Linked DNA regions of Homo sapiens. The protein of the gene in region 1 purifies or fractionates together with the protein of each later gene. This does not show direct contact. Each region holds a gene or a part of one and is shown in the gene's direction. Other genes may lie near its edges. The genes, in order: C6orf141, RNASEH2A, FAM83H and RAB3GAP1.

Region 1 (7,627 bases):
GAACAACCACTAATCTATTTCTTGATGAAATTGATATGTGAGTGAGCACAACCTGTCATAACATGGCAGGCTCATTTATCTCTAAAGATGAAAAATATTATCTGAATATATTTATTTATCAACTGACCTAATAAGAGTAAGTGGGCCTAAGAGTCTTTGCTGAAAGACTCTTGTCTGAATTGTGAATTCTGTTGCCAAAAGCACTAATGGACAACTAATCTGCCAATATTGTATAGACTCATAGAGTGTCACATTAACTCTACAACCAGATACAGAAACAAAAACTGTAGCTAATATGCTTAAATAGAAGAGTTCTTCTTTGTCCTTCTACTTGCTACAACTCTGTATTTCCCACTTAAAAGTAAAATCCTATTAATGTATTGTTTTATTTGATTGATATATGTATTCAATTGATGCATTGCCGCATTTCTTAATCAGCCACTTCAAGCTGATTGTAACCAAGTAACTACAAATCCATTCCTGCTCCAATGTGTCCCCCTCACTTTCTACCCACAATGTATGTATCTACTTCATTTGGGAGTACAACATTATATGCTTTCTAAATTGACAAGTTTTACATTTTAGTAAACAAAGACCAGCAGGAACACTCCTGTACTAAAGAAAAATAAGTTAGGTTTATTTTTCTTGCTTCAGCAGCTAAGAATGCACCCTTGAGTAATTATGGGATAATTCACTAAGTGGATTTGGGAGAGGCTTTGTATAGGATTTGGACTAGAGATGATAGTCCTAAATAAGATTTAAGGAAGCAGGAGCCAGTGCTGCATTAGATGTTGTCAAGAACTGGGATCAACTCCGTGATAGGGTACCTTGGTGACTTTTATCTAGGAAAGGAGAGGATTAAAGTAGATGTAGACCAGAAGTATCATTAGTAAAGGATTGATAGTCACTTCTGTTAGCTATAAGAGGGGGATGTTTAATCTTCTTTACGGTTTTTAGTGTTCTTGTCTGTCTTGTTCCAAACATGGTCACAGAGTGGTTTTATATAAACGATGCTTCTATTCTGAGTTTTGATAATGTTCAGTTGGGATCACCATGGCCTGGCCACCTGAAGGGCCACTTTTTGCTTTCTCAGAAGTTAAAAACTGTTGAATAGACAAGTTTTTCAACTCAAGAATGTTATATCTGATTGGGGAAAAATAAGCTATGAAATATTGCTACAGTTGTAAATTAAAGGCAGAGGTCTGCAAGTGGAGAGTAAACCTTCGGAAGGCAGAATTGCTCAAATGATTGAGAGTGTCATAAGTATGTAAAATAAGTTCTAGTTCTAATAGGCAAAATAAGAGGGACTGGTCTTTGGTTAGATTGGGCTATTAATTAAAGTCTTCTTCTTTTGGCCCTACCAGGGCAGAGCATGTGCTGATGATCCCCAATAATTTTACAGATCCCAGAAATATAAATTTCTTTATTACCCCTCATTGGCCTGCATATTTGCAGCTATAATGGGCACATCAGAGAGGAAGTAAATGGGTTCACTTTAGTGTCCTCTATCAGTCTTTTAGGCACTTTGAGATATTAATGCACAACAGACACCACTATCCTTGAGGCAAGCTGCCTGTTTTTCTGGTTGATATTCTTTTTAGACTTTACCTTTTTGAAGATTGATTTATTTAGCATTTCCCCTTCATGTTCTTTCATGCATTAATACATAACTTCTTGACATCTAGAAATTCAAGTGCAATATGACAAATGAGTCTGCTTCATTCTTCAGCAAATAACTTTTCCTCTTTTCTCATCCCCCTACTCTAATATCTCATGCAATCCACAATGGCAAGAAAACTATTTGAAAGCAATAAATGTTGTGGTTTACATTATATTTCCCTTAAAATACAGATACCTTATTGGAATTCTCCCAATATTCTTCAAGGAAAGAAAATATAGTATTCTTGTTGCAACTCTAAATAAGCAAAAAAGTGTTAGAGTTTATCTATACATATTTTTGGAAATGCTTCTCATAATGTCCATAAACCACTAGGTTAGAATTACTGAGGGATTTGCTAAAAATCTGTATCCTAATCTCTACCCCAAACCTATAAGAACAGAATCTTTGTAAGGAGGGTAAGACTTGAGCTGCAGGTAATTTTCATGTATATTAAGGTTAATTGATTATCTCCTAGTTCTGAACAGAGGATTGATGTATGTTACTGCATATATAAGAATAACAACTTTAGGCCGGATGTGGTGGCTCATGCCTGTAATCCCAGCACTTTGGGAGGCCAAGGTGGGTGGATCATCTGAGGTCAGGAGTTTGAGACTAGCCTGGCCAACATGGTAAAAGTCCGTCTCTACAAAAAATACAAAATTAGCCAGGTGTGGTGGCACATACCTGTAATCCCAGCTTACTCAGGGGGCTGAGGCAGGAGAATTGCTTGAACCTTGGAGGTGGAGGTTGCAGTGAGCTGAGATGGTGCCATTGTACTCCAGCCTGGGCAACAAGAGTGAAACTCTGTCTCAAATAAATAAGTAAATAAATAAATAAATAAAATCTTTAAGAGGATAAGCAATTTGGTTTGTTCCTCCAGATGTCTCTATCACCTAGAAGAGTAGCATATAGTTAGTAATTAGTGGTTATGTAAATGAATAGAAAAGAACATGAAGTCACAGGCTTAAAATATGAAGGTAATTTAGAAGTCATTTTGGAGCAAGCATTTAAATAAGTTAGAATCTTGGCTCCACTGTTTATTGGTGTTTGACCTTGGGCACACACTTAACCTCTTTGTGCTTCAAAGATTTCAAGGAGACCAAAGAAATACTACTACTTTCACAGTTTATTGTGAAGAATAAATGTGTTTAAATATATAGAGTGCTTAGAACAATTCTTGGCTAAGACACTCAAAAATTTGAGCTCATTGTGATTGAGGAGAAACCAGCCCAAGGTCAGGCATGTATATTTTTTGGTTGTTTTTGTTGTTGAAGAGACAGAGGTCTCACCATATGGTGCAGGCCAGATTCCAACTCCTAGGCTCAAGACACCCTCCCACCTCAATCTCCCAAGCAGCTGGGATTACCAGTAGGCGCCGCTGTGCCCACTAAGGTCAGGCTTCTAATCACCCAGGTCTGACCCAGATTTTCTCACTCCTCCTCTATCACTTTATTTCTTTATATGATTTGGCAGATATCAAAAGTCCTCCCTTTCCAAATATCTCACTATACTACTTTGTTTTTTACATATGGGCAGAATTTTTCACCATTGCACTCATTTTTCTAAATCAGGCAGGATTTAGATTTCTCTTTCTTTCCTTTCTTTTTTTTTCTTTTTCTTTTTTTTTTTGACAGATTCTTGCTCTAACACCCACACTAGAGAGCAGTGGTATGATCTTGGCTCACTGCAACCTCCCCCTCTCCCGTTCAAGCGATTTGGTGCCTCAGCATCCCAAGTAGCTGGGATTACTTACATGTGTGTACCACCATGCCTGACTAATTTTTGTACTTTTTGTAGAGACTGGGTTTCACCATGCTGACCAGGCTGGTCTCAAACTCCTGGCATCAAGTGATCCACCGGCCTCAGACTTCCAAAATGATGGGGCTACAGGTGTGAACCACCACACCCAGCCATCAGTGGGTTTTTTAATAAAACAAACAGCTAAGGATGAACTGGAAACCACAAACTGAGCTCTTTTTCTATGACCTAGCCTCCCCGGTTAACCTTAGGCAAAGAGTAGTGGTCAGCGGGCCTGCCTATGGGTAAATTCTAAAAGCCTCGCCAGAGACACTTAACTTTTTTTAACCCCTGTGGTTAAAGAGGACGGGTGGGTGCAGAGGGAATTTTATAAACGACACAAACACAAACAATTTTAAGTCCTGAAAAAATTCATTTGGATGTTTGTTTTGCTTCTGTTTTATAGCTTGTTTTAAATCAAAGACTACACCTTCCTGAGACAAGCGTTGATTACACACAAAATGAAGACTGGCCAGGGCCGTGGCTCAAGCCTGTAATCCCAGAATTTTGGGAGGCCCAGGTGGGTGTGTGGGTAGGGTGGGGGATCCTGGGTATCTCGTAAGCCCAGGAGTTCCAGACCAGCCTGGGCAATATAGGAGAGCCCCACCCCTACCATCTCTTAGAAAAATATAAATAAATAAATAAATAAATAAATAAATAAATAAATAAATAAAAGCCGGGCATGGGGGTGCGCGCCTGTAGTCCCGGCTACTTGACGGGCTGAGGTGGGAGCCTGGAAAGTCGAGGCTGCGCCACTGCACTCTATCCTGAGCTACAGAGCGAGACCATATCTAATGTGGGGGGGTGGGGTAAGAGGAAGGGGGAGCGGGGAGAGGGAGAGAGAAAGAGAGCGGGAAAAAAGAAGGAGGAGGAAGAGGAGGAGGAGGACACAGGTGTGACCATTGTCCTCCAGAGCTACAGATTCTGGCATTCTAAAGGAAGAAGGACAAAGAAACCAAAACCAGTTTCTCCAAGGCTTCAGCTTTTCAGTCTGACCATTTGATCTACATTCCATTATTTTGGCAGCATGGTGGGAGTGGATTCGGAATGGACAAAAACCCTTTTCAGAATTAGATCAGCTAATTAAAATGCACACAAACTTCTTTGTTCCTTCACCTCAAGGAGCGTCCTTGGAAAGCAAACATACTTCGGGGCATTTCAGTGGGGGCGCAGTGCGAGGGTGTCCTTTGCGCCTCAGCTCCGGAGAAAAACGAAAGGTGGGTGGGAAACTAGGATAGAGGTGAAAAGTAAGAGGGGACTGAATCAGCGAATGACAAAGGGAGCAGGGCTCCGGACAGGGGTAGGAGGAAGAAGAGGAGTGACTGGGGCTTGTGTCAAGCTTCTTCTGAATGGCTAGACAGCCGCCAGGTGGGAGAGGCGGAGGGTGAAGAGGCGGGTTCCGCACGCGGTTAGCCTGGGGCTGATCTAGTCTTCAGCTTTCACCGGCTGGGAGTCCGGAGCTGCAGCAGAGGCCACACCCAGGGCTTGGTGGTCCCGCGCTTTCCGGAGCTCAGCAGGCGCTTGCTGCTTGAACCGGTCAAAGAAGGAACGAATGAATGACCCTTTTGCCAGGATGGAGACCCGGGGGCCTCAGGGAGCTGCGAATCCCATGGACTCCTCCCGCAGCCTGGGGGACCTCGGGCCTTTTCCGCGGGAGGTAGGGCGCGGGGCTCCGCTAGCTCCGGGCGCCCGGAATCCCGCGACGGCAGGGGCGAGCCGAAGCCAGGGCGGCGGCCACGAGGACAGAACGGCAGATCGGGCCCTCGGACCTCGGGCCGGGGAGGAATTGGACCGTGAGTCCTGGGTCAGAGAGAAAGTGCTCTTTCTCCTGCACCCAGAGAGGTGGTTAGGGACTCGAGGGGACCCTGCACGGGAAGAGGTGGCCGGTGCAGAGGACCTTCCTCATGCGGGTGGAGAGGACCACGGCGAGGAGCCCAACTACCCTTCTGTCTTTCAACGACAAAAGCGAATTTCTGGCAGGCGTGTAGCCCCGCCGCGGGACGCAGCAGACCCACCCAAATACGTGCTTGTGCGGGTGGAGGATTATCAGGTAACACAAGAAGTGTTGCAGACCTCCTGGGCCAAGGGTCGCATGACCACGAGGACTGAGGAGCACTTCGTGACCGCGCTCACTTTTCGCAGCAGTAGAGAGGGACAGCCTGGGGAACGCTGGGGCCCTGCTGAATCCCGGGCTCTCCAGGCACGAACAGGGGCATCCCGCGTCCACGCCGCGGGGAGGAGGGTTTCACCGTCTCCAGGGACTTGGCTCGAGGAAATTAAACTCTAATGAGTAGCTCGAGAAATGTTCCGGGATGGTGGATGAGCGATCATCCTTAAAAGAAAATGCTATTCTGGGAGCTCCAACCTGCAATTAACCTACAGAAGGAACCTTTTGAGAGGCTGGTGCAGCGCTTCGGGGAGGCAGATTAAGAACTGTAAGCAGCATAATACCTCCTTTGTGGCTTGAATTCCTTCGCTGTCTGGGGACCTAAGTCATTCAGAAGAGGTGGAGAAAAGATATTTTCAGATTGGCAGAATGTGGGAGTTTTGAAATGAGAAAACCTGTTGTTAATTTGCATTTTGGAATAACTCTCAATTGATCTCTTTTCTGTTCCCCGCCCCCCTCTTGTTTCTCTTTAGGACCTAGAAACAGAAGTGAAGTTTGAAGTCTGCTCTCTGCAAAGAGGGTGGGAGTGGGTGGAGAAGAGGCTTGTTTTAAAAGCCAAAAACAGAAAGTAAAAAGAAATGGGAAAGTAAAACCAAAGCAGCAAGTGACTCTCTTCTGATGTGCACTTTTCATTTTTCTCCCCCACATTTCAGTGTTAGAAAGAAAACGAGAGGAGCTAGGGAAAGAAGGAGTTGGGGACAGAAGACTAAGATTTCAACGTGAAATTCCATTTACAAAGGCTTTACTGCAAACAATAGCTAATTTAGTCCTGTAAACATGCATTTATCATACATTTTAATTTTAATATTAAAAATACTGCATGTAAATGTTCTGAACTAAAGGTAGATAGCAATATGTAGTTTGCCATAAAATGAATGCATGTCTTATTCTTTTCCATAGTTCTTCATTAATGAGACTTGTAGTCAAGAATAGATTGAAGATACCATTCTCCTTGTGTAGTTCAAAAAAATCTCCTCTGGTAATACTGAAACAACTAATTTTTCTTATTTTGTTTGTTCCTCTTTATTATTAAATACTATGTGAATTAACTCTTTAGTAGTTGGCCTGGTTGAAGCTCTGTGAGGAGCAAAGCAGCCCTCTCCAGGTGAACTGCTTGACTTTACCACCTGAAGGAGTATTTACTGCAAGAATTAACAAAGCAGGTAGGACTCTGGCTTTTGATGAGCAAATAGTTGAAAAGTGCCTCCTTCCCCAGTCTTCCCTTTTGCCTTCATTTTTAGTTTAGAGCTTGAAGTGTTCTCAAAAGATCATCTGATCTACCTCTTGCCTCCTGGCAGGCCAGATAGATAAGATGCCCCTGTTTTACTCATGAGCCAACCTAGGCCTAGAGGTCTTGTAGCATGTCTAAGTCACACAGCTAGTAATTGCATATGCTTACTAAGTGGATGAAGAATGTGATAATCTCCCTCCTAAAGGTTTGGGGCAGCCTTTAGAGGATTTATTTGACCCTTACTTAGGGGTCAAAAGATGCCTGAGGATATCCTAGGTTTTCTTTCTTTTTCTATTTTTTTCTTTTTTTTGAGACAGAGTTTCTCTCTTGTTGCCCAGACTGCAGTGCAACGGCACGATCTTGGCTCACCACAACCTCTACCTCCAGGGTTCAAGCGATGCTCCTACCTCAGCCTCCTCAGTAGCTGGGATTACAGGCATGTGCCATCACCCCGGCTAATTCTGTATTTTTAGTAGAGATGGGGTTTCTCCATGTTGGCCAGGCTGGTCTTGAACTCCCAACCTCAGGTGATCCTCCTGCCTCCGCCTCCCAAAGTGCTGGGATTACAGGTATGAGCCACCATGCCTGGCCAATATCTTAGGTTTTCTAACTCATGTTTATGAGAAGTACTAGAATCACCTTAATGTTCCTGAATTCTGCAAGGCCTCTTGGCTGGAGAATCATCACTAGCAGTTCTTAGGCCTGTGAGACCCTCACTTGGGAGAGGAATTCAGCATCTGAGCTCATCTGTGTTCAAAATTGCTTGACAGGT
Region 2 (6,020 bases), on another chromosome or scaffold:
TAAAAATAAAAAATAAAAAAATAAAACATGAAAGATGGTCAGCTGGTAAACAAAAAATAAAGGTTGTTTCTGAAAACAGTAGTGCTGTGGAGATACCACTTTCCCCCAGCAGCTCTTGGACCCTCTCTTCGGTGCTGCAGCCAAAGGCCCCCATGCATGGGCCCAGCATCATGAACCTGGTCCCAGCTCAGGGCCTTTGTACTGGCTGTTCTCACACCTAGAGCCCTCTTCCCCAGATCTCTGCACAGTTCACTTCCTCACCTCCTTCAAGCCTTTATTCACCACTACACCTAGCTAACTTTTTATTTTTTGTAGAAACAGGGTCTCCATATGTTGCCCAGGTTGGTCTCAACCACCTGCCCTCAAGCGATCCTCCCACTTCGGCTTCCTAAAGTGTTGGGATTACAGGCTTGTGCTAACGCACTCTACCAATTTTTTTCTAGTGTTTTCTGCCACCTCAGTTCCTAGAACAGTATGTGGCATGCAGTAGGTGCTAAATAAGTTAGAGTAAAAGCAGCGTGATAGAGAAAGCCTCTTCAGGAGGTGAGTTTTTTCTTTATTTTATTGTATTTATTTTATGTTTTTATAAAGATGGGGTCTCACTGTGTTGCCAAGCCTGGCCTCAAACTCCCAGGATCAAGCGATCCTCCCGCCTCAGCCTCCCAAAGTGCTGGGATCACAGGCCTGAACAACTTTGCCTGGTCTAGGAGGAGATGTTCGAGTTGAAATCCCTGATTGATCCATCCTGGGGACGTGCTGGAGAAGAGGATTCTGGGTAGCAGGAAGAACGTGCCAGGGCTGTGAGGCTAGAGCATTGGTACAGTTGTTTGTTCAATTAATATGTGTCTGTTGCTGTGGCAGGTATTCGTGGACACCGTAGGGATGCCAGAGACATACCAGGCGCGGCTGCAGCAAAGTTTTCCCGGGATTGAGGTGACGGTCAAGGCCAAAGCAGATGCCCTCTACCCGGTGGTTAGTGCTGCCAGCATCTGTGCCAAGGTCAGTACCCTACTAGCCATGGCTGGCTTCCACCATCCCACTATATAGGGGCCAGGCATGGCCACCAAAGGGAAGGAGGGAGATTCCAGGTGCCTGTTTTGCCCACAGGTGGCCCGGGACCAGGCCGTGAAGAAATGGCAGTTCGTGGAGAAACTGCAGGACTTGGATACTGATTATGGCTCAGGCTACCCCAATGGTGAGCAGACACGTGACCATGGTACTAATGTTGAAATGGCCAGGGCTGAGCACACTTCTGAGGTTTTCTTTTTTTCCTTTCTGTCATTTATCATTTTATTTTGCTTATTTTTTGTTTTTATTTGTTATTTTTGTTTATTTTTTGAGACGGAGTTTCGCTCTTTTTGCCCAGGCTGGAGTGTAATGGTGCGATCTCGGCTCACCGCAACCTCCACCTCCTGGCTTCAAGCGATTCTCCTGCCTCAGCCTCGCGAGTAGCTGGGATTACAGGCATGTGCCACCACACCCAGCTAATTTTGTGTTTTTAGTAGAGACTAGTTTTCTCCATGTTGGTCAGGCTGGTCTTGAACTCCTGACCTCAGGTGATCTGCCTGGCTCAGCCTCCCAAAGTGCTGGGATTACAGGCATGAGCCACCGTGCCCAGCCTATTTTTTGTTTTTATAGAGATGGGGTCTTGTCATGTTGCCCAGGCTGGTCTCAAATTCCTGGAGTCAAGCAGTCCTCCCACCTTGGTCTTTCAAAGTGCTGGGATTACAGCCATGAGCCACCACCCCTGGCCCTTTTTTTCTTCTTTTTTTAAAGAGATGGGGTCTCCCTATGTTGCCCAGCCTGGTCTTGAATTCCTGGGCTTAAGTGATCCTCCTGCCTTGGACTCCCAAATAGCTAGGATTACAGGTGTGAACTACTGTGCCTGGCTGGAGGTTTTCTAAATTGCTCTGGTCACCCTACTCCACAGTGAAAGAGGCCAAGTGTTAGACAGTGGTGCCATTTGTTTATGGCCACACAGCCAGTGAGTGATAGAGCTGAATTCCAGGCCATAGGATTGCTGCTGTCTTCCCCGCTTCCCACTTTGCTGTCTTTCTGGAGCCCCAGTGATGGACTGAGACCCAAGGTGGGCATTTGTCCCTTTGTTAAGGGGAAGGGGACCAGGCGTGGTGGCTCATGCCTGTAATCCCAGCACTTTGGGAAGCTGAGGTAGGAGAACCGCTTGAGTCCTCGAGTTCAAGACCAGCCTGGGCAACATAGCGAGACCCCCATCTCTATAAAAAATTTAAAAAATTAGCCGGTTATAGTGGTGCCCACCTGTAGTCCCAGCTACTCTGGAGGAGGAGGCTAAGGTGGGTGGGTTGCTTGAGCCCAGGAGTTGGAGGCTGCAGTGAGCTATGATTATGCCACTGCACTCCAGCCTTGGTGACAAGATGAGATCTTGTGTCAAAAAAAAAAATAATGTTAGCCAGGCGTGGTGGCTCACACCTGTAATCCCAGGACTTTGGGAGGCTGAGGCAGGTGGATCCTTTGAGGTCAGGAGTTCTAGACCAGCCTGACCAACGTGGTGAAACCCCATCTCTACTAAAAATACAAAATTAGCTGGACGTGGTGGCACACGCCCGTAATCCCAGCAACTCGGGAGGCTGAGGCAGGAGAATTACTTAAACCTGGGAGGTGGAGGTTGCAGTGAGCCGAGATCGCATAATTGCACTCCAGCCTGGGAAATGAGCAAAATTCCATCTCAAAATAATAATAATAATAATAATAATAATATTTAATGACAGGCTGGGCCAGGTGGCTCATGCCCGTAATCCTAGCATTTTAAGAGACAGAGGCAGGTAGATCATGTGAACTCAGGAATTCACAACCAGCCTGGGCAATATGACAAGACCCCATCTCTACAAAAAATACAAAAATTAGGTGTGGTGGTGCGCACCTGTAGTCCCAGCTACTTGGGAGGCTGAGGTGAGAGGATGGCTTGAGCCTGGGAGGCAGAGGTTGCATTGAGCTGTGATAATGTCACTGCACTCCAGCCTGGGTAATAGAGCGAGACCCTATCTCAAAAAAATAAAAAGGCTGGGTGTGGTGTTTACACCTGTAATCCCAGCACTTTGGGAGGCTGAGGTGGGTGGATCACCTGAGGTCAGGAGTTTGAGACCAGCCTGCCTGTCCAATATGGTGAAACCCCGTCTCTACTAAAAATACAAAAATTAGCCAGGTATGGTGGTGGGTGGCTGTAGTCCCAGCTACTTGGGAGGCTGAGGCAGGAGAATCGCTTGAACCTGGGAGGCGGAGGTTGCAGTGAGCCGAGATCGCACCATTGCACTACAGCCTGGGTGACAGAGCAAGACTCCATTTCAAAAAATAAGTAAATAAAATAAAAATGTTTAATGACTTGTTCTTGGAGGTCAAGGAGATGTCTCAGAGGCAGTCTCCCTGCACTGCCCTTTTAGCAGCTCTTGGCCAGGTAAAGGTCCTGTGGCAAGAAGGTGCTTCAGACCATAGGAGGTGCCCCAGGTACTCAGGAGGAAGCCTTAGAAGAGCGGCAAGGAGGCCGGGCGTGGTGGCTCATGCCTGTAATCCCAGCACTTTGGGAGGCCGAGGGGGGTAGATCACGAGGTCAAGCAATTGAGACCATCCTGGCCAACATGGTGAAACCTCGTCACTACTAAAAACACAAAATTTAGCTGGGCATGGTGGCATGCGCCTGTAGTCCCAGCTACTTGGGAGGCTGAGGCAGGAGAATCGCTTGAATCCGGGAGGTGGAGGTTGCAGTGAGCTGAGATCGCGCCACTGCACTCCAGCCTGGCTACAGAGTGGGACTCCATCTCAAAGAAAAAAAAAAGAGTGGCAGGGAGCTTGAATGTTATGGTGCAACTTGGACTGTCACCATTGCCCACCCTACCCCAGATCCCAAGACAAAAGCGTGGTTGAAGGAGCACGTGGAGCCTGTGTTCGGCTTCCCCCAGTTTGTCCGGTTCAGCTGGCGCACGGCCCAGACCATCCTGGAGAAAGAGGCGGAAGATGTTATATGGTGGGTGTCATGGATGTCCTGGGGGTGCTATAGGGAAGGAAGGAGGGAGGCCAGCGTTCAGCCCTGCCTGAGAGGGTTGCTCCCTGTGTAAGTGGTCACTGTCATCACCTCTCTCCCACAGGGAGGACTCAGCATCCGAGAATCAGGAGGGACTCAGGAAGATCACATCCTACTTCCTCAATGAAGGGTCCCAAGCCCGTCCCCGTTCTTCCCACCGATATTTCCTGGAACGCGGCCTGGAGTCAGCAACCAGCCTCTAGCAGCTGCCTCTACGCGCTCTACCTGCTTCCCCAACCCAGACATTAAAATTGTTTAAGGAGAACCACACGTAGGGGATGTACTTTTGGGACAGAAGCAAGGTGGGAGTGTGCTCTGCAGCCGGGTCCAGCTACTTCCTTTTGGAACCTTAAATAGAATGGGTGTTGGTTGATTAATTTTATTTGGTTTGATTTTTTTCATTTTTAAATTTTATTTATTTTATTTTATTTTATTTTATTTTTTTGAGAGACGAAGTCTCACTCTGTCACCCAGGCTGGAGTAGAATGGGGCAATCTCAGCTCACTGCAACCTCTGCCTTCCAGGTTCAAGCGATTCTCCTGCCTCAATTTCCCAAGCAGCTGGGACTATAGGCGTGTGCCATGCCCAACTAATTTTTTTTTTTTTTTGAGACACAGTCTCCTGTTGCCCAGGCTGGAGTACCATGGCACAATCTTGGCTCACTGCAACCTCCACCTCCCTGGTTCAAGCAATTCCCCTGCCTCAGCCTCCTGAGTAGCTGGGATTACAGGTGCACACCACCACACCCGGCTAATTTTCTTTTCTTTTCTTTCTTTCTTTTTTTTTTAATTTGAGACAGAGTCTCACTTTGTCACCAGGCTGGAGTGCAGTGATGCAATTTTGGCTCACTGCAACCTCTGCCTCCTGGGTTCAAGCGATTCTCCTGCCTCAGCCTCCCACGTAGCTGTGACTACAGGCATGCGCCACCACACTCAGCTAATTTTTGTATTTTTAGTAGAGACGGGGTTTCACCACGTTGGCCAGACTGGTCTTAAACTGCTGACCTCAGGCAATCTGCCCGCCTTGGCCTCTCAAAGTGCTGGGATTACAGGTGTGAGCCACTGCGCCTGGCCTAATTTTTGTATTTTTTAGTAGAGACAAGGTTTCACTATATGTTAGTCAGGCTGCTCTCTACCTCCTGACCTCAGGTGATCTGCCCACCTCAGCCTCTCAAAGTGCTGGGATTACAGGCATGAGCCACTGCACCGACCTTTTTAGTTATATTTTTAATTTTTAAAAATTTTTAAATTTTCTTTCTTGAGATGGAGTCTCGCTCTGTCACCCAGGCTGGAGTGCATTGGCTCAATCTTAGCTCACTGTAACCTCTGCCTCCCAGGTTCAAATGATTCTCCTGCCTCAGCCTCCCGAGTAGCTGGGACTACAGGTGCGTGCCACCAGGCCTGGCTAATTTTTTGTATTTTTAGTAGAAACACGGTTTCACCGTGTTAGCCATGATGGTCTCAATCTTCTGACCTTGTGATCCGTCTGCTTCAGCCTCCCAAAGTGCTGGGATTACAGGCGTGAGCCGCCATGCATTGCCTATTTTTATTTAAAAAATTTTTTGAGACAGAATCTCACTCTGTCACCCAGGCTGGAGTGCAGTGGTGCGATCTCAGCTCAGTGTAACCTCCGCCTCCTGGGTTTAAGTGATTCTCCCACCTTAACCTCCTGAGTAGCTGAGGTTCCAGGCACACGCCACGATGCCCAACTAATTTTTGTATTTTTTGTAGAGATGAGGTTTCATCATGTCGCCCAGGCTGGTCTTGTAGTCCTGGGTTCAAGTGATCTGCCCGCTGTGACCTCTCAATGTGTGAGCTACCATACCTGGCTGACTAATATGTAAAATACATGATGTGGCTGGGCGCAGGGGCTCATACATGTAATCCTAGTGCTTTGGAAGGCTGAGTCAGGAGGATCTTGACCAGTCTGGACAACATAGGGTAACAAGAGCGAAACTCTGTCTCAA
Region 3 (8,463 bases), on another chromosome or scaffold:
TAGGCCAGAGAGGTGCAGTGACCTACCCACAGTCTCCCAGGCAGTCAGAGACGGACACATGGGCAGCATGGGCGGCACCAGCTTGTCCAGTAGGCACAGTGCCAGGGGTCCGTGAATGTCTTAAAATAAGAAAAAAGTGAATATTATAATGATGAATGCAGCCTGGATTGTTTGTCTTTAAGCCAACAGTCATGAAATATTTGGGGGGGGGGGTTCGTTTTATTTTTATTTTTTGTAGTGATGTGGTCTCACTCTGTCACCCAGGCAGGAGTGCAGTGTCACAATCATAATTCACAGCAGCCTCCAACTCCTGGGCTCAAACAATCCTTCTGTCTCAGCTTCCCAAGTGCCTGGGACTATGTGTGCACGCCACCATGCCTGCCTAATGTTTAAAATTTTTTGTAGAGATGGGGTCTTGCTGTGTTGCCCAGGCTGGTTTCAAACTCCTGGCTTCAAGCAGTCCTCCTGCCTCAGCCTCCCAGAGAAAGGAGAGACAGGGCTGGGATACCTGTGCCCCAGCCCTCTGCCAGTGTCCCCTCAGCTAGGGGCATCCTAGGGTCTGGGTTGCTCTCTGTGAGCCTGGTTCGGCTGGTGCCCTGGAAGGCCTCCTGGGCATGGGCTAAACTCCAGCCTACCCAAGTCACTGACGGCCCTTTCCACAGTGTGTCCATGCTCGAGGGTAGGAGTGGTCCCAGTGCCCCCACCCCTAGTCATGTGTCTCCCTGCCCCTCCAGGCCCCTGGCCCCAACATGGCCCGTCGCTCTCAGAGCTCCTCGCAGGGGGACAACCCACTGGCACCCGGGTACCTGCCGCCTCACTACAAAGAGTACTACCGCCTGGCGGTGGATGCACTGGCCGAGGGTGGCTCGGAGGCCTACAGCCGCTTCCTCGCTACCGAGGGGGCACCAGACTTCCTGTGCCCTGAAGAGCTGGAACATGTGAGCCGACACCTTCGGCCTCCGCAGTATGTTACCCGAGAGCCACCTGAAGGCAGCCTTCTCGACGTGGACATGGATGGCTCCTCGGGTACATACTGGCCAGTGAACTCAGACCAGGCCGTGCCTGAGCTTGATTTGGGCTGGCCTCTGACCTTCGGCTTCCAGGGCACCGAGGTGACCACCTTGGTGCAGCCACCGCCCCCCGACAGCCCCAGTATCAAGGATGAGGCCCGCAGGATGATCCGTTCCGCCCAGCAGGTGCGCCATCTTGGGCTTGAGGGTAGTGGGGGAGGGGCCTGGGCTAGAGGCACGGGGGTGGAGGAGATGCATGAGCATGATCAGCTTGAGGGGTGAGCCTGAGCTCCAGCTGGAGTGGGGGTCCCTGGCAAAGATCTTCAGGGCTGCCAGGTCTCGGTCATCAGGGGCTGCAGGCTCTGCACAGGTCTGCTTGCCTGTGGTCATGGCCAGTGCCCAGAAACTCGGGGGCTCTGGGGATGGGTGGGCACCCCACCAGCCTGGGTTCATTGTTCAGATAATTACCTCTCATCCTGCCCGGTGGCCCTTGGCCAGCTGAGGGCTTCTAACCATCACCAAACAGCTAGCAGACGGCGGAAGGTGCTGTTAAACCATAGCGACTGAGGCATGAGGTCCAGACGCTAAAGGCTTGTGACTTTCTCCCCTGCCCAGGGCAACAACCCCGTCCCAGGGCAGAACTGGAGCCTGGCACTTGGCCCTGACAGCTGCCCTGGAATGGGGGCAGCTCAGCCGTCTGTAGGGTGGAGGGGATTGAGGGGCCCTTGCCGTGCCCCAACCTGGCCCACCCTCATCCAGGGTTCTCTGCCCTGCACCTGCCTCGGTTTCCCCCTTATGGCCAGCCGTTCCACACCTCTTCTGTTTGGTCCCTTCTTCCTGCCCATCTTCCCAGATGTGGCGCCAACTCCCTAGGATGGACTAGCTTGTTTCACAGTGGTCGTGGGTGATCCAGACACCTCCCGGGTGTGGAGGGGAGGCTGGACAATGGTGTGGGGACAGCAGGGGCCTCTCCTCTCCGTCCTGACCCGCCCCTGCAGGTGGTGGCCGTGGTGATGGACATGTTCACTGATGTGGACCTGCTCAGCGAAGTGCTGGAGGCCGCGGCCCGTCGGGTCCCAGTCTACATCCTGCTGGATGAGATGAACGCGCAGCACTTCCTGGACATGGCCGACAAGTGCCGTGTCAACCTGCAGCACGTGGATGTGAGTTCCCGGGAGTGGGAGATTGGGGAGGACCCGTGGGAGAGATCTGACTCCCCTCCCTCCCCAGTTCCTGCGCGTACGGACTGTGGCGGGCCCCACCTACTACTGCCGCACTGGGAAGTCCTTCAAGGGCCACGTCAAGGAGAAGTTCCTGCTGGTGGACTGTGCCGTGGTGATGAGTGGGAGCTACAGGTGCGCCCGCGGGGCTCCCTCACCCCCTTCTCTGGGGCCTCCTCCTGTAACCCCAGCACCCCCTTTCCACACCAGGGCCCTCCTCGCCAGGAGCCCTTGTCCTGTAGACCCCTGCACAGCCTAGCCGGGCCCAGGTCCTTGCAGACCTCACATCCCTGCGTCCTCCGCGCCCCACCCGCTGCCCACGGGGCTGCAGTGCCCTCGCTCCAGCTCGGTTTGACTCTGGCCCTGACCCCCCCACAGCTTCATGTGGTCCTTTGAGAAGATCCACCGCAGCCTGGCGCACGTGTTCCAAGGAGAGCTGGTCTCCAGCTTCGACGAGGAGTTCCGCATCCTCTTCGCGCAGTCCGAGCCGCTTGTGCCCTCGGCCGCGGCCCTGGCCCGCATGGACGCCTATGCCCTGGCTCCGTATGCCGGGGCCGGGCCTCTCGTGGGCGTCCCTGGGGTCGGGGCGCCAACCCCCTTCTCCTTCCCTAAACGAGCGCACCTCCTGTTCCCGCCACCCCGGGAAGAGGGCCTGGGCTTCCCCTCCTTCCTCGACCCGGACCGCCACTTCCTGTCGGCCTTCCGCCGGGAGGAGCCGCCGCGGATGCCGGGGGGCGCGCTGGAACCGCACGCGGGGCTGCGGCCGCTCTCGCGGCGCCTGGAGGCCGAGGCCGGGCCGGCTGGGGAGCTCGCGGGCGCGCGGGGCTTCTTCCAGGCGCGGCACCTGGAGATGGACGCCTTCAAGCGGCACAGCTTCGCGACCGAGGGCGCGGGCGCCGTGGAGAACTTCGCGGCCGCGCGGCAGGTGTCGCGGCAGACGTTCCTCAGCCACGGCGACGACTTCCGCTTCCAGACCAGCCACTTCCACCGTGACCAGCTCTACCAGCAGCAGTACCAGTGGGACCCGCAGCTCACGCCGGCGCGCCCGCAAGGCCTGTTCGAGAAGCTTCGCGGGGGCCGCGCGGGTTTCGCGGACCCGGATGACTTCACCCTGGGCGCCGGGCCCCGCTTCCCGGAGCTCGGACCCGACGGGCACCAGCGGCTGGACTACGTGCCGTCCAGCGCGTCCCGCGAGGTGCGCCACGGCTCGGACCCCGCCTTCGCGCCCGGACCCCGCGGCCTGGAGCCCAGCGGAGCCCCGCGCCCCAACCTGACCCAGCGCTTCCCATGCCAGGCCGCGGCGAGGCCGGGCCCAGACCCCGCTCCCGAGGCGGAGCCGGAGCGCAGGGGCGGGCCCGAGGGGCGGGCAGGGCTGCGGCGCTGGCGTTTGGCCTCCTACTTGAGCGGCTGCCACGGCGAGGATGGGGGCGACGACGGCCTACCGGCGCCCATGGAAGCGGAGGCTTACGAAGACGACGTGCTGGCTCCCGGGGGCCGGGCACCTGCCGGCGACCTGCTCCCCTCGGCCTTCCGCGTCCCAGCAGCCTTCCCCACCAAGGTCCCGGTGCCAGGCCCGGGCAGCGGCGGCAACGGCCCAGAGCGCGAGGGCCCGGAGGAGCCTGGCCTGGCCAAGCAGGACTCATTCCGCTCGCGCCTGAACCCCCTGGTCCAGCGCAGCTCCAGGCTGCGCTCCTCGCTCATCTTCAGCACGTCACAGGCCGAGGGCGCGGCCGGGGCTGCGGCGGCCACTGAGAAGGTGCAGCTGCTGCACAAGGAGCAGACGGTCAGCGAGACGCTGGGGCCCGGCGGAGAGGCCGTGCGCTCCGCGGCTTCCACCAAGGTGGCGGAGCTGCTGGAGAAGTACAAGGGCCCAGCCCGTGATCCCGGCGGCGGCGCGGGCGCCATCACCGTTGCCAGCCACAGCAAGGCCGTCGTGTCCCAGGCGTGGCGGGAAGAGGTGGCGGCCCCAGGTGCCGTGGGGGGCGAGCGCCGCAGCCTCGAGAGCTGCCTGCTGGACCTGCGCGACTCCTTTGCACAGCAGCTGCACCAGGAGGCGGAGCGGCAGCCGGGAGCCGCGTCGCTCACCGCGGCGCAGCTGCTCGACACACTGGGCCGGAGCGGCTCCGACCGCCTGCCTTCCCGCTTCCTCTCTGCCCAGAGCCACTCAACGTCCCCGCAAGGGCTGGACAGCCCTCTGCCGCTGGAAGGGTCCGGAGCGCACCAGGTGCTCCATAATGAGTCAAAAGGGAGCCCCACCTCGGCTTACCCTGAGCGGAAGGGGAGCCCCACGCCTGGGTTTTCCACTCGAAGAGGAAGTCCAACTACAGGATTTATCGAGCAGAAGGGGAGCCCCACCTCAGCCTACCCCGAGCGCAGGGGTAGTCCGGTGCCCCCCGTGCCGGAGCGCAGGAGCAGTCCGGTGCCCCCCGTGCCGGAGCGCAGGGGCAGCCTCACCCTTACCATCTCCGGGGAGTCCCCGAAGGCCGGGCCCGCGGAGGAGGGGCCGAGCGGCCCCATGGAAGTCCTGCGCAAAGGCTCCTTGCGTCTTAGGCAGCTGCTGAGCCCCAAGGGCGAGCGGCGCATGGAGGATGAGGGTGGCTTCCCAGTGCCGCAGGAGAACGGCCAACCCGAGAGCCCGCGGCGTCTGTCACTGGGCCAGGGTGACAGCACGGAGGCTGCCACAGAAGAGCGGGGTCCGCGGGCGCGCCTGTCCTCAGCCACGGCCAACGCCTTGTACAGCAGCAACCTTCGGGATGACACGAAGGCCATTCTGGAGCAGATCAGTGCCCACGGCCAGAAGCACCGTGCGGTCCCTGCCCCGAGCCCCGGCCCGACCCACAACAGCCCCGAGCTAGGCCGTCCACCGGCTGCTGGCGTCCTGGCCCCAGATATGTCCGACAAGGACAAGTGTTCAGCCATCTTCCGCTCGGACAGCTTGGGGACCCAGGGCCGGCTGAGCCGCACGCTGCCAGCCAGCGCGGAGGAGCGCGATCGGCTGCTGCGCCGCATGGAGAGCATGCGCAAGGAGAAGCGCGTGTACAGCCGCTTCGAGGTCTTCTGCAAGAAAGAGGAGGCCAGCAGCCCTGGGGCAGGGGAAGGCCCCGCGGAGGAGGGCACCAGGGACAGCAAGGTGGGCAAGTTCGTGCCCAAGATCCTGGGCACGTTCAAAAGCAAGAAGTGAGTCTTCTGGCCTGGCAACCCAGGCCAGGGTGCCCGCATCGCTGCCCCGGTCATCCAGAAGCCCCGCGGAACAGAGAGCCCTGCTCATCTGCTTGAGCAGCGGCTGTCAGGCCACGGCCGCTTGGGGCTTGGCTGAGTGCGCCAGACCTCGGCTCCACTGGAGGCTCACCTGGCAGCTGCCGTCTCTGCCCCCTGGCCTCCCCAACGCTGGGGCTGCACCCCTCGCCACCAGTGCCTTTCTCCCCTCAGCACCTTCATCTCTGCACCGTCAGCCTTGCGTGGCGCAGCGTCTGGCTCCGCCATCTCTTTGTGCCTCAGTCCCCCCCGCCCCCTTTATTTTTTTGAGACCTAGGGCTGGAGTGCAGTTGAGCGGTCTGGGCTCACTGCAACCTCTGCCTCCCGGGTTCCAGCGATTCTCCTGCCTCAGCCTCCTGAGTAGCTGGGATTACAGATGTATGCTACCACGCCCAGGTAGTTTTTGTATTTTTAGTAGAGACAGGGTTTCACTATGTTGGCCAGGCTGGTCTCCAACTCCTGGCCTCAAATGATCAGCCCGCTTCAGCCTCCCAAAGTGGGGGGATTACAGGCGTGAGCCTTGCACCCCGCTAAGTCCCCTATCCTCTTGCAAGGGTCTCGCCTCTGTGCCTCAATTCCTCATTCTCTGGGCCCTTCTCCTCCTCAGGGCCTCCTGTTCTCAGGGCCTCCCCCCTCCCCGCTCCCTCCCTCTCTCAAGGTCTCCTCCTTCCCTCCCCCCCCCCCCCCCCCGTCTCCCCCCTCCCCCGCCTGGGCTTCACTTCCTTTCCTACTTGGATTCTCCTGCTCGCTGCCTCCCAGCATCTTTTTTGGAGGCCCGTCTCTTGCTGTGGGGAAGACTGGGCTGGCTGCGGGCAGTTTGCAAGGGGTGGGTGGGGCAGGGGGGGGGGAGCTGGACCAGAAGATGCCCCTTGGAGTGGCAAGGAAGCTGGACAGGGCAGGCCTCTGGGGACGGGACACAGGGAAGCCCGAAGGGGCGCCTTGGCCAGGTCTGCCATCTCCTCCAGCGAGGCTCTGGCCAGCACTGGGTGAGAGTGGGGAGGGGGCATTGGCCTTTGCAGCACAGTAAAACATGGTCCAGACAACCTGTGGCCCCGGCCTCATGAGCACCCCCTGCACAGGCCCGGCCCAAGCCAGGCGCTAGAAGGGCTGGTTGTGGAGTGCTTATCCTTGACAGGTATGGGGCCAGGTGAGGGCAGGGGACAAGGTGCAGCTGAGGCCGAGCCCAACTAGGTCCTGGGCACCCCTGCAGGTGGGAGTGGTCCTTGTCCTCCTGGTATCCAGCAGACACCCCCCTCTCCCCACCAGCCCCATTCTCAGGTCCTTTCCTCTTTGTCACCAACACCAAGAATCTGTCCAGGGTTCTTGGCTTATCTTTTATCTCTTTTCACTCCTAGAGAGGAATTGCAATTGACTCAGAATGACACATTTTGGCACCACGTGTGTAGAAAGCCCCCACTGTTAGATGATAGCCTCGTGAAATTCATGTTTCTGTATTCTCCTATTTCTTTTCAAAAACTAATTTTTTTTTTAGTGTAATAAATCCTAAGAGGGAACTGATTTAAGAAACAAGGCCGCCAAACAAAGGCAGCAGTTCCGACTCCAGCAGCTGGGAAAGGAAGGAAAGTGACCCCACTTTCACTCCTGCACAGCCCACTGGTTACCAAAACCACCGTGCAAGTCGGGATGACAGCAGGGACTTCTGGCCAGGTGGGAAAGGTGCCTGGAAGCGGGATGCGCCTGTGCGTCTCTTGGCCATGATGTTCTTGTGGGCATGTTATTCTTGGTGCTGCCTGGGGTGTTGCTGAGCGGACAGGCTCTCCAGCTGGAGTCCATGGAGAGGCCAGAGGCTGGCGGCCCTGCCTGGGCCTTCGGAGCCTCCTGCCTGCACCCTCCACCTCTTCTAAACCATGATGTGGCACATTTTGGTGTTAATAAAACACAACACACAAAGTATTCTAGCATGTTCCCCAGTGTGTATAATCGCCCAGTTACATCCTGCAGCCTTTAACCACGTGGCCTCCCAGATTTCCCCTGTGGACCCACCACCCACCCCTGTGGGGGGCACTAAAGACCCCCCAGCTCCACTTCCAAGGCCCACCTTGGCCTCCCCAACTTCACGCTGCTCTCCTGTCCCTGTCCCCGATGCCCCCTGTGCAGGCACACTCCTGGGTGCCCACCTGCGATTCCCCACTCAGCAGCCCCACCACACACTGCCCAGCCTGAGGCCAAGCCTCCAACCCTGCAGCCCCGTGGCCTCTCTGCAGCTTCCTCTCCCACAGCCTCTCTGTCCTGCTTGTTCAGCACCCTGGGCCTGCGCCTTGGGCTTTTGAAGCTCAACAAGCACCTCCCTCGGCAGCCCCCTCAGGAAACAGCCCCTGGGCTGGGTCTCTGACTGGCTCACCGCTTCCTCGGGCCCTCCCGATCCCTCCTCCGCCTCCTCCAACCTTCTCCCAAACCCAGCCTCCCTTTCTGAGTCTCTTGCAGGTGCCTGGTCCAGCACCAGGGCAGCGCCAGCTCTCACCTTCTGCTCAGCTCCCCCACCCACATCTTGTCCTTCCCCGCCCTCCCCCATGGTGGCAATGGCTTCCACAACCCAGCAGCGCCCCTCTCCTGGCAGCCCAACACCGACCACAGCACAGGCCGCACCCTTCAAACTGTGAGCTCCTCCGGCCTATGAGCTTCCCAGACTGTGAGCCTGGCAGCCCAACTCCGCCACCGACAGCACAGGCCGCGCCCTTTAGACTGTGAGCTCCTCCAGCCTGTGAGCTTTCCAGCTGCCTCCTTGTGTTCCAACCCCAACCCATGGGCAGGTGCAGCTGAGGACACCTGGCACCCTAGGACACAGGTCTGTGCCCACAGGGCCCCTTTGATCTTTGCAGCCCTGCACAGCCCTGGCCTGAACTCACACCAGGGACCTTGCCTGGGGGTGACAAGAGGAGGTAACCCTGACCTCGCGAGATGTCTGTCTCCCACCCTCACCTACGGAGACCTGAAGACAGATCAGGTGCAGTGGCCAT
Region 4 (8,463 bases), on another chromosome or scaffold:
GGAGACTTAACTTGATTCATAATTAGGATGGTGATTTGTGGACTGGAATACAAAGGGAACCTAGAAGGGAGGATTGTAACATATTTCAGAGAAGATTTAGGTAATAAACTTGATGATACGTTAAAAGTGGGAAAAATCAAATGTGAACTGTAGTTTTTTGCCTGTAAGAATGAATGTAAGGAAGTGTCAAAGTGAGAAGATTTGAACCTGTTGATTTTGAAATAATTTGATGTCTTGAAGGTAGTTAGAAAAATGTAATTCAAATCTTGGAGGGTGGGGTAGGGAAACATCAGTTTTGAATGGAAAAATGATCACTTTCCCCTAGTTAAAAATATCCTGAAGTGGAATATTAAGTCCTTTAGCTTTGCATATGGAAATAATTATTAACACCGTTATAAGAACTATTGCAAAGTAGAAAATTTGGTTTTTGGCTTTTACACTGTAGTGTGCATTTTACAATTCATGAGAGAAAATGTTAAGACTTTGAAGTCTCAAACCTTGAGTTTAATTTTAAATGAAAGATCTTGTGAGTACAATATGTTATGAACTATATAGATAATTTATTGAGAGAACTGTATAGAAGCCCATAACTCTTTTTATCATTTGTTCATTGACAATATTTATTGAATCCCCATATGTCAAGCACAGTGCACATTACGGATTTAGGGATGTGGTGGTTAGTAAAACAGGTACGGTTTCTGCTTTTACTAAATGTGCAGTCTAGTGCATTACAGACACAAATCAAGTAATACAAGTCTGTAATTATGAGTTTATGTAAGAGCTAGAAAGGGAAAGAAACCTGGTCTTATAAGAGCCTATAACAGAGGGACCTAATATAGAATAAGGAATCAGGAAATGACCCTTCATTTCCTGAGAGCTTTTAAGGAAAAAATTACTTAGTTTTTCTAGTCAAATCTCAATACTTGTAGGATAAAGTCCAAGTCTCTTAGCTAGTACTGATAGAATTCATTATTCATACAATAAGTATTTTAAGACATTCCTGGCCGGGCATGGTGGCTCATGCCTGTAATCCCAGCACTTAGAGAGGCTGAGGCAGGCAGATCACTTGAGCTCAGGAGTTCAAGAGGAGCTGGGGCAGCATGGCGAAACCTTGTCTCTACTAAAAATACAAAAGCTAGCTGGGCATGGTGATGTGCACCTGTAGTCCCAGCTAGTCAGGAGGCTGAGATGGGAGGATTGCTTGAGTCCTGGAGGACAGAACTGCAGTGAGCTGTGATTACACCACTGCATTCCAGCCTGGGTGACAGAGTTGAGACCCTGTCTCAAAAAAAAAAAAAAAAAGACATTTCTTCTTTTACTGTAAAAACTATATTTTAAATAGTTTTCACTATAATAGTAATACCTTATAGTAGAATAAAAAATAAAAATCACCTGTAAACTTAACACCAGGAAATAACTGCTGTTAATTTTTTGACATATTTCCTTTTTTTTTCTTTTTTTGAGACGGAGTCTCGCTCTGTCGCCCAGGCTGGAGTGCAGTGGCGCGATCTCGGCTCACTGCAAGCTCTGCCTCCCAGGTTTACGCCATTCTCCTGCCTCAGCCTCCCAAGTAGCTGGGACTACAGGTGCCCGCCACCACGCCCGGCTAATTTTTTGTATTTTTAGTAGTGGCGGGGTTTCACTGTGTTAGCCAGGATGGTCTCGATCTCCTGACCTCATGATCCGCCCGCCTCGGCCTCCCAAAGTGCTGGGATTACAGGCATGAGCCACCACGCCCGGCCGACATATTTCCTTCTAACGTGTGTTAAAAACTTTTTTGGATCAAATATTAATATTTCTTTTTCTTTTTCTTTTCTTTTTTATTTTGAGACAGAGTCTCACTCTGTTGCCCAGGCTGGGGTGCAGTGGTGCAGTCTTGGCTCACTGCAACCTCTGCCACCTGGGTTCAACCAATTCTCCTGCATCAGCCTCCTGAGTAGCTGGGATTACAGGTGCCTGCCACCGCGCCTGGCTAATTTTTGTTGTATTTTCAGTAGAGACGGGGTTTCACCATCTTGGACAAACTGGTCTTGAACTCCTGACCTCGTGATCCACCCGCCTCAGCTCCCAAAGTGCTGGGATTACACGCGTGAGCCGCTGTGCCTGGCCTTTGTATATTTTCTTTTGATTGACATGATTTTTATTGGGTGCATATTAGTCCTCTGAGTGGATTAATTTACAAGTATTTCCTGCAGTTGGGCATTAAGGTAACTTCCAGTTTTTTTAGCTTCGTAAATATAGTATACATTTCATGCAAATTTTTGCTTGCCTGTGGATATATTAAATTTTTCCTCTTTGGTAAACATGTAAACTTGTTTCTAGAGCACTGATTTTCAAACCTAGTAATTGTCATTTGACTGACCTCCCCCATGAATTAGTGTATGAATTGATACTGCATTTAATTTTAAAGAGGAATTAGTAAGAAGCCTCAGATGAATCATAGATTTATTATTACTATCTTAAAACATAATTATTAGTTCATATTAGTTCATAATGTCACTGAAGGAAAAAATCTGTTGCCTTTCCATACAGTTTGACTAGAATTAACTCTAGTACTCTAGCAGTACTTCCAGGTGTTTAGAGAGCAATGTTGCTGTTAGATTGCATCATACTTAGCTTATATAAGAAGTCAACTTAGAGTAAGAATAATTCTTCTGAAAATGTCTTTGACTGAGACTTGACAGTTTTCATTTACTGATGTTGAGCATGTTGCTACTCAAAATTCAGTTCTCTTTTTAATAGGCCTTCTTGACCATTGGATTTAAAGATTGGTGACTAGTTTTAAGACCTGTCACTTATACTTAAAGTTGACATATTTACTTGCAATTTCTTGTCAGCTGTCCATTAAAACTTGTTTTAGTTTCATGAACCAAGTTACCAAATAATATTTTCTTTTTTTGTTGGGGGCTGGGGGGGTAAATCGGAATTCCTAATATATTTAAAGGAAAAGTTTATTTAAATAGGTCAGTTATTGTGGGTAGGAGAGAGATGATTGGTTTCATAATTTTATTTATTTATTTATTTTTGAGATGGAATCTCACTCTGTCGCCCAGGCTGGCGTGCAGTGGCGCGATGTCCGCTCACTGCAACGTCCGCTTCTATGTGATTTTTGTGCCTCAGCCTCCTGCGTAGCTGGGATTACAGATGTGTGCCACCACACCGGGCTAATTTTTTTTGTATTTGTGCTGGGCTGGTCTTGAACTCCCAACCTCAGGGTTAGGAATTCAAAGGGCTGGAATTACAGGCATGAGCCACTGCACCCAGCCCATAATTATCTTTAATAGTATCATTTTAGTCTGTCAGTTTTTATTTGTGCCCCAAATTTGTTTTATTCGTTTTATTAGAGATTCATCAATTCTTAATTTACATTTTATAGAAGGCAGAATGCTTTTGTTGGGTAAGCAATAGATATAAATGAATCAAAACCTAAGAATTCTTGAATGAAAGAAGATTATTTCTCTTACCCCATATCCATAAATTAAGCTAGCAATACTAAATGTACTGAGTCCTCTCTGGTCAAATTGTTAAAATATAAAAAATACCTTTTTAAAGAAATTACATAATAATAGGAAAAAAGGTGTGCTGTTGTATTTAGAAGCTTTCTCCCTACTTCCTAGGTTTATTTCCAAAGTTGAAGAAGTCTTGAATGACTGGAAACTGATTGGAAACTCTTTGGGAAAGCCACTCGAAAAGGTCAGATCTATTTGCTGGTGTCTCTAAATGACTATTTACTTTGAAACCTCTATTTTCCAGCCCTTTGCTGCATTTGGCACATTTGAATTAAATGTTTTTTAAAGTTACGTATAATCTATAAACATCAAATAGCATTTGGAAGAATTTGGATTTAAATCTGTGGCAAATGATATATGTAAGACATTTGTGAAATGTTTAATAAAGTTATATATATGTGTGTGTGTATATATATATATATAAAATGTCATTCTTTGTGAGTGATTCTTTGTGAGTGAAGTTTGCTTCTCTTTTGCCTTCTCCCTTGGAATGTTAAAACATGTTTTTAAAAGTTTTTTATTTGGTCAGAGAAACATTGCAGTGACCATCTTCTTTGGTAGCATATTTTGCTTACTAATGAGGAAAATTCTAGTACTTACCATTGACTTACTGTAGTTAACAACTATTTCACTCAGTTTTTGTATTTTATAATATCACTAATAACATCCCCCTTCCCTTTTAAGCTTTTTAACTTATGGATGTTTTAAGGATTTTATTTAAGAATGAAAAAATTACTCTTTGAAATTGAGGTAGAAATCAAATTCTAATCTAAAGTATTGGTAGTTTTATTCATAAACCACACCCCAAATGTTTACTGAAGAATGTACTCTGAGAACAAACCTGGATTCACTGTGAAGGGATCTAACAATTTGATTTTAAGTTTATGTAGATGCTTAGTTTGTTAGATAAATTCTTTTGAAATAAAATTTATGGTTGGTTTTATTACAACTCAATATTACTAACTCAGTGATAACTTATTAACTCAGTAATTATTAATTCAATAGTAATTTAATTATAATTTACCCTGTGTTAGGAACTTTGAGTTCTCAATATTTGCTAGGGGTTTTCAGCTTTGTGATGGTGATACTATCAAAAAAGAGACTGTCAAAATGCATTAGGAAGCCAGGCAACATGGTGAGACCCTGTCTCTTAAGGAAAAAAAATCTCCTTATTTGTATCAATATGAACAGAAAAAGTAAGACCACATATAAAAAATACATCATTCAAAGACTCTTGGCAATATATACATTGATTTACTACACTACATGTGTGAATAAAGAAAATGTGACGCTTTCAAACACGGGTCATTCTACTCCACTTGAAACAAATACATAACAATTGATATAGATGCCAATAAGATTAGAGGCAAAATAAGCTGGATATAGCTAGAATAGGAAATGATTTACACTACTAAGAAGAGAGCTAAACCGGGTACTTATGAGCTCTGATATTCTTTCATTCTTTGATTTACATGTATTTACTGAGTACCTGCTATGTGCCTGATGTGAAGAAATTGTGAACAAGATAAGATCAGTGTTGCCATTGAACATAAATTCTAGTGAGGGTGATCAGTAAAGAAACATTAAAATTTTATTTTATTATTATTTTTTAAATTGATATATGATAGATGTACATATTTTGGGGTACATGTGATAATTTGATACATGCATATAATCAAATCAGGGTACTTGGGAACCCTTAAATATTTATCTTTATGCTAAGAACATGCAAGTTACTCTCTTTTAGCTATTTTGAAATGTACAGTCAATTAGTGTTAACTAAAGTCACTCTAAGGGTTAAAGTTTTAGATGCTAAATTCAGTTTTGGGATTTAAGTGGGTAGTTATTTAAAGTAGGTAGCATACTGCCAGGCATGTAGTAGAGGCTAATGAAGTCATAGCTCCAGTCTGTTTCTCCCTACTAGATAGTAGTACATAAATAAGATACAGAAAATATGGGCAGATTTCAAGGTGAGCTGTAACTATGATGAATATGAAGAAAGTGTAGAGGACAGGGATTGTTTGGTGTAGAAAACAAAGTTTAGAGACTTCCTTTGAAGATTTTAACTTATATGAAGGACAGTGATTATTAATTTTCTCCTCCACTGAGGGGGAATTAAGGGAAATTATTTATTAAAAACCTTTAATTATGGAAAATTTCAAACATATATGAAGTAAACAGAATAGTATAATGAACTCCCATGTACCCATCACTTAATGTCAACAATTAATACTTTGCCATTTCTTGTTTGAGTGGTACCTCTGTTTACTCCCCTACCTCCACTAGATTTTTTTAATAGTTTTTTTTTGGGTAAGATTTATATACATTGTAATGGACAAAACTTAACTGCTTGATTTTTTTTTTTTTTTTTTTTTGAGACCGAGTCTCGCTCTGTTGCCCAGGCTGAAGTGCAGTGACATGATCTCAGCTCACCGCAACCTCCACCTCCCGGGTTCAAGAGATTCTCCTGCCTCAGCCTCCCAAGTGGCTGCGACTACAGGCACCCGCCACCACACCTGGCTAATTTTTTGTATTTTTTAGTAGAGACGGGGTTTCACTGTGTTAGCCAGGATGGTCTCGATCTCCTGACCTTGTGATCTGCCCGCCTCGGCCTCCCAAAGTGCTGGGATTACAGGTGTGAGCCACCGCGCCTGGCCAACTGCTTGATTTTGACAAATGTTCACATGGGTATAACTTACACTCCTGTCAAGATAGAGGTCATCTCTGTTACCCCAGGAAGATCCTTAGTGACCCTTTCTAGTTAATTCCCATGCCCTCCAGTCATCTGCTATTATTATTATTGTTATTATTATTATTATTTGAGACAGAGTCTTGCTCTGTTGCCCAGGCTGGAGTGCATTGGTGTGATCTTGGCTCATTGCAACCTCTGCCTCCCGGGTTCAAGCAAGTCATATGCCTTAGCCTCCCAAGAAGCTGAGACGACAGGCATATGCCACCTTGCCTGGCTATTTTTGTGTTTCTAGTATTTTGTATTTTCACCACGTTGGCCAGGCTGGTCTCCAATTCCTGGCCTAAAGCAATCTGCTTGCCTGGGCCTCCCAAAGTGCTGGGATTACAAGTGTGAACCACTGGGCCCAGCCTTTTTTTTTTTTTTTTTTTAAATAAACATAAATTACTGTCACCTGCTTTAGAACTTTACATTTAGGTGACCATAAATGTCCTTGACATCCTTTACTCACGATAATGTTTTTGAGATTCATCTAGGTTGTTGTACATACCAGAATTTCATTTCTCTTTATTGCTGTGTAGTAAGTGATCTGTTTTATGAATATACATGGTTTCTTTCACTTGTCCACATACGTACTATTAGGAATAAAGCAGAACATTATTGTATGAGGCCTTTTGTGGGCATATGTTTTTATTTCTCTTGAGTAAATACCTAGGATTGGAATCACTGGGTAATAGGATAGGTGCAACTTTATAAGAAACAGCTAGAGCTTTTTGTACTGTTTTACCTGCCCACCATCAATACATGGGAGGTTGTGTTGCTATACATTCTCACCAACAATCAGTTGTTTGCAGTCATGTATATTTTAGTCATCTTAATGGGTATGTAGTTTGTGCTTTTAATTTATATTTCTCATTTTGGTTTTAGTCTGTATTTCTGTGATGATATTAATATTGACCACTTTGAATTTTCATGCATTTATTAGCCATTTGTTTATCTTCCTTTGTGAAATGTCTTTTCAAGTTCTTTATCCATTTTAAAAATTGGATTTTGTTTTTATTGAGTTGTAGGAGTTCTTTTAGTTTTTTTTTGGTATATATATATTCTGCTTTTAAGTCTTTTCTCAGTAGTTTTGCTAGGTTGTGAAGATGTTTTTAATGCATTTTTCTAGAGGGTTTACCAATTTATCATTTAACCTTTGTTAAGGTCTATGATTTATTTTGAGCTACTATATGGAGGGAAGTAGGGATCAAGTTTCTTCTTCCTTTTTTTTGTGTATGGATATCCTGTTGTTCTAGAACCTACTTTGGAAAACACTTTTTCCATTGAGTTGCTTTGTCACCTTTATTGAGTAGTTGACCTAAGTGGTCTACTTCTGGAGTCTGTATTCTGTTTCATTAGTCTATTTGACTATCCTTATGTCAATACCATATTGTCTTTTTCTTTTTTTTTTGAGACAGAGTCTCACTCTGTCACCCAGGCTGGAGTGCTTGATCTTGGCTCACTGCAGCCTCCTGCCACCATGTTGGCCAGGCTGGTCTTGAACTCTTGACCTCAGCTGATCCGCCCGCCTCGGCTTCCCAAAGTGCTGGGATTACGGGCATGAGGCACTGCGCCCGTCGTATATTGTCTTGATTACTGTAGTTTCAGGTTTCCTAACCTTGGCACTATTGACATTTTGGGCCACATTGTTGTGAGGCTGTCTTATGCATTGTCAAATATTTAATAGTATCTTTGGTTTCTACCTGCCAGATGCCAGTAACATGTTTCCAGTTGTGACAACCAAAATTGTATCCAGATATTGCCAAATGCCCGCTGAGGGGCAAAATTGGCCCCAGCTGAGAACCATTGAATGGATTTTTAGTAAATCCTGATGTTAATGTAAATTCTCCATTTTTGTTGTTTTCCCAAGATTTTAGATCTTTTGTGTTTCAATTATGAATTTTAGAATAGGCTTGCTAATTACTATAAAAAGGAGTATGATTATGCTGAGACTGTAATTGGGGTTGGGTTGAATTTGTAGATCACTTTGGAGACATTTTAACAGTTTTGAAAGTTCTAGTCATGAACATGGCACATCTCTCCATTTATTTAGGTCATCTTTAATTTTCCTCAGCAACATTTTGTAGTTTTGGTAGAGGTCTTGTATATCCTTTGTTAAATTTATTACTAAGGATTTTATGTTGTATGATGCAAAAATAAATGGAATTGTTTTTTAGTTTTGTTTTCCAGTTGTTCACTGCTAGTACATAGATACATGGTAAA

What was found.
Region 2: the proteins of C6orf141 (region 1) and RNASEH2A purify together in Homo sapiens (affinity purification with mass spectrometry; 2 studies listed by BioGRID and IntAct, with this or other methods). This does not show direct contact.
Region 3: the proteins of C6orf141 (region 1) and FAM83H purify together in Homo sapiens (co-immunoprecipitation; 3 studies listed by BioGRID and IntAct, with this or other methods). This does not show direct contact.
Region 4: the proteins of C6orf141 (region 1) and RAB3GAP1 purify together in Homo sapiens (affinity purification with mass spectrometry; 2 studies listed by BioGRID and IntAct, with this or other methods). This does not show direct contact.

What each region holds. Positions count from the first base shown.
Region 1 is NC_000006.12:49,545,784-49,553,410, forward strand, and holds C6orf141 (uncharacterized protein C6orf141), read left to right. Parts: upstream 1-4,884; 5' UTR 4,885-5,009; coding exon 5,010-5,744; 3' UTR 5,745-6,312; downstream 6,313-7,627.
Region 2 is NC_000019.10:12,809,210-12,815,229, forward strand, and holds the end of RNASEH2A (ribonuclease H2 subunit A), read left to right. Parts: intron 1-861; coding exon 862-999; intron 1,000-1,107; coding exon 1,108-1,195; intron 1,196-3,873; coding exon 3,874-3,997; intron 3,998-4,118; coding exon 4,119-4,257; 3' UTR 4,258-4,431; downstream 4,432-6,020. UniProt on the Homo sapiens protein: Catalytic subunit of RNase HII, an endonuclease that specifically degrades the RNA of RNA:DNA hybrids. Participates in DNA replication, possibly by mediating the removal of lagging-strand Okazaki fragment RNA primers during DNA replication.
Region 3 is NC_000008.11:143,722,869-143,731,331, reverse strand, and holds the end of FAM83H (protein FAM83H), read left to right. Parts: intron 1-734; 5' UTR 735-749; coding exon 750-1,196; intron 1,197-2,008; coding exon 2,009-2,173; intron 2,174-2,240; coding exon 2,241-2,365; intron 2,366-2,608; coding exon 2,609-5,411; 3' UTR 5,412-7,399; downstream 7,400-8,463. UniProt on the Homo sapiens protein: May play a major role in the structural organization and calcification of developing enamel. May play a role in keratin cytoskeleton disassembly by recruiting CSNK1A1 to keratin filaments. Thereby, it may regulate epithelial cell migration.
Region 4 is NC_000002.12:135,054,394-135,062,856, forward strand, and holds part of RAB3GAP1 (rab3 GTPase-activating protein catalytic subunit), read left to right. Parts: intron 1-3,617; coding exon 3,618-3,693; intron 3,694-8,463. UniProt on the Homo sapiens protein: Catalytic subunit of the Rab3 GTPase-activating (Rab3GAP) complex composed of RAB3GAP1 and RAB3GAP2, which has GTPase-activating protein (GAP) activity towards various Rab3 subfamily members (RAB3A, RAB3B, RAB3C and RAB3D), RAB5A and RAB43, and guanine nucleotide exchange factor (GEF) activity towards RAB18.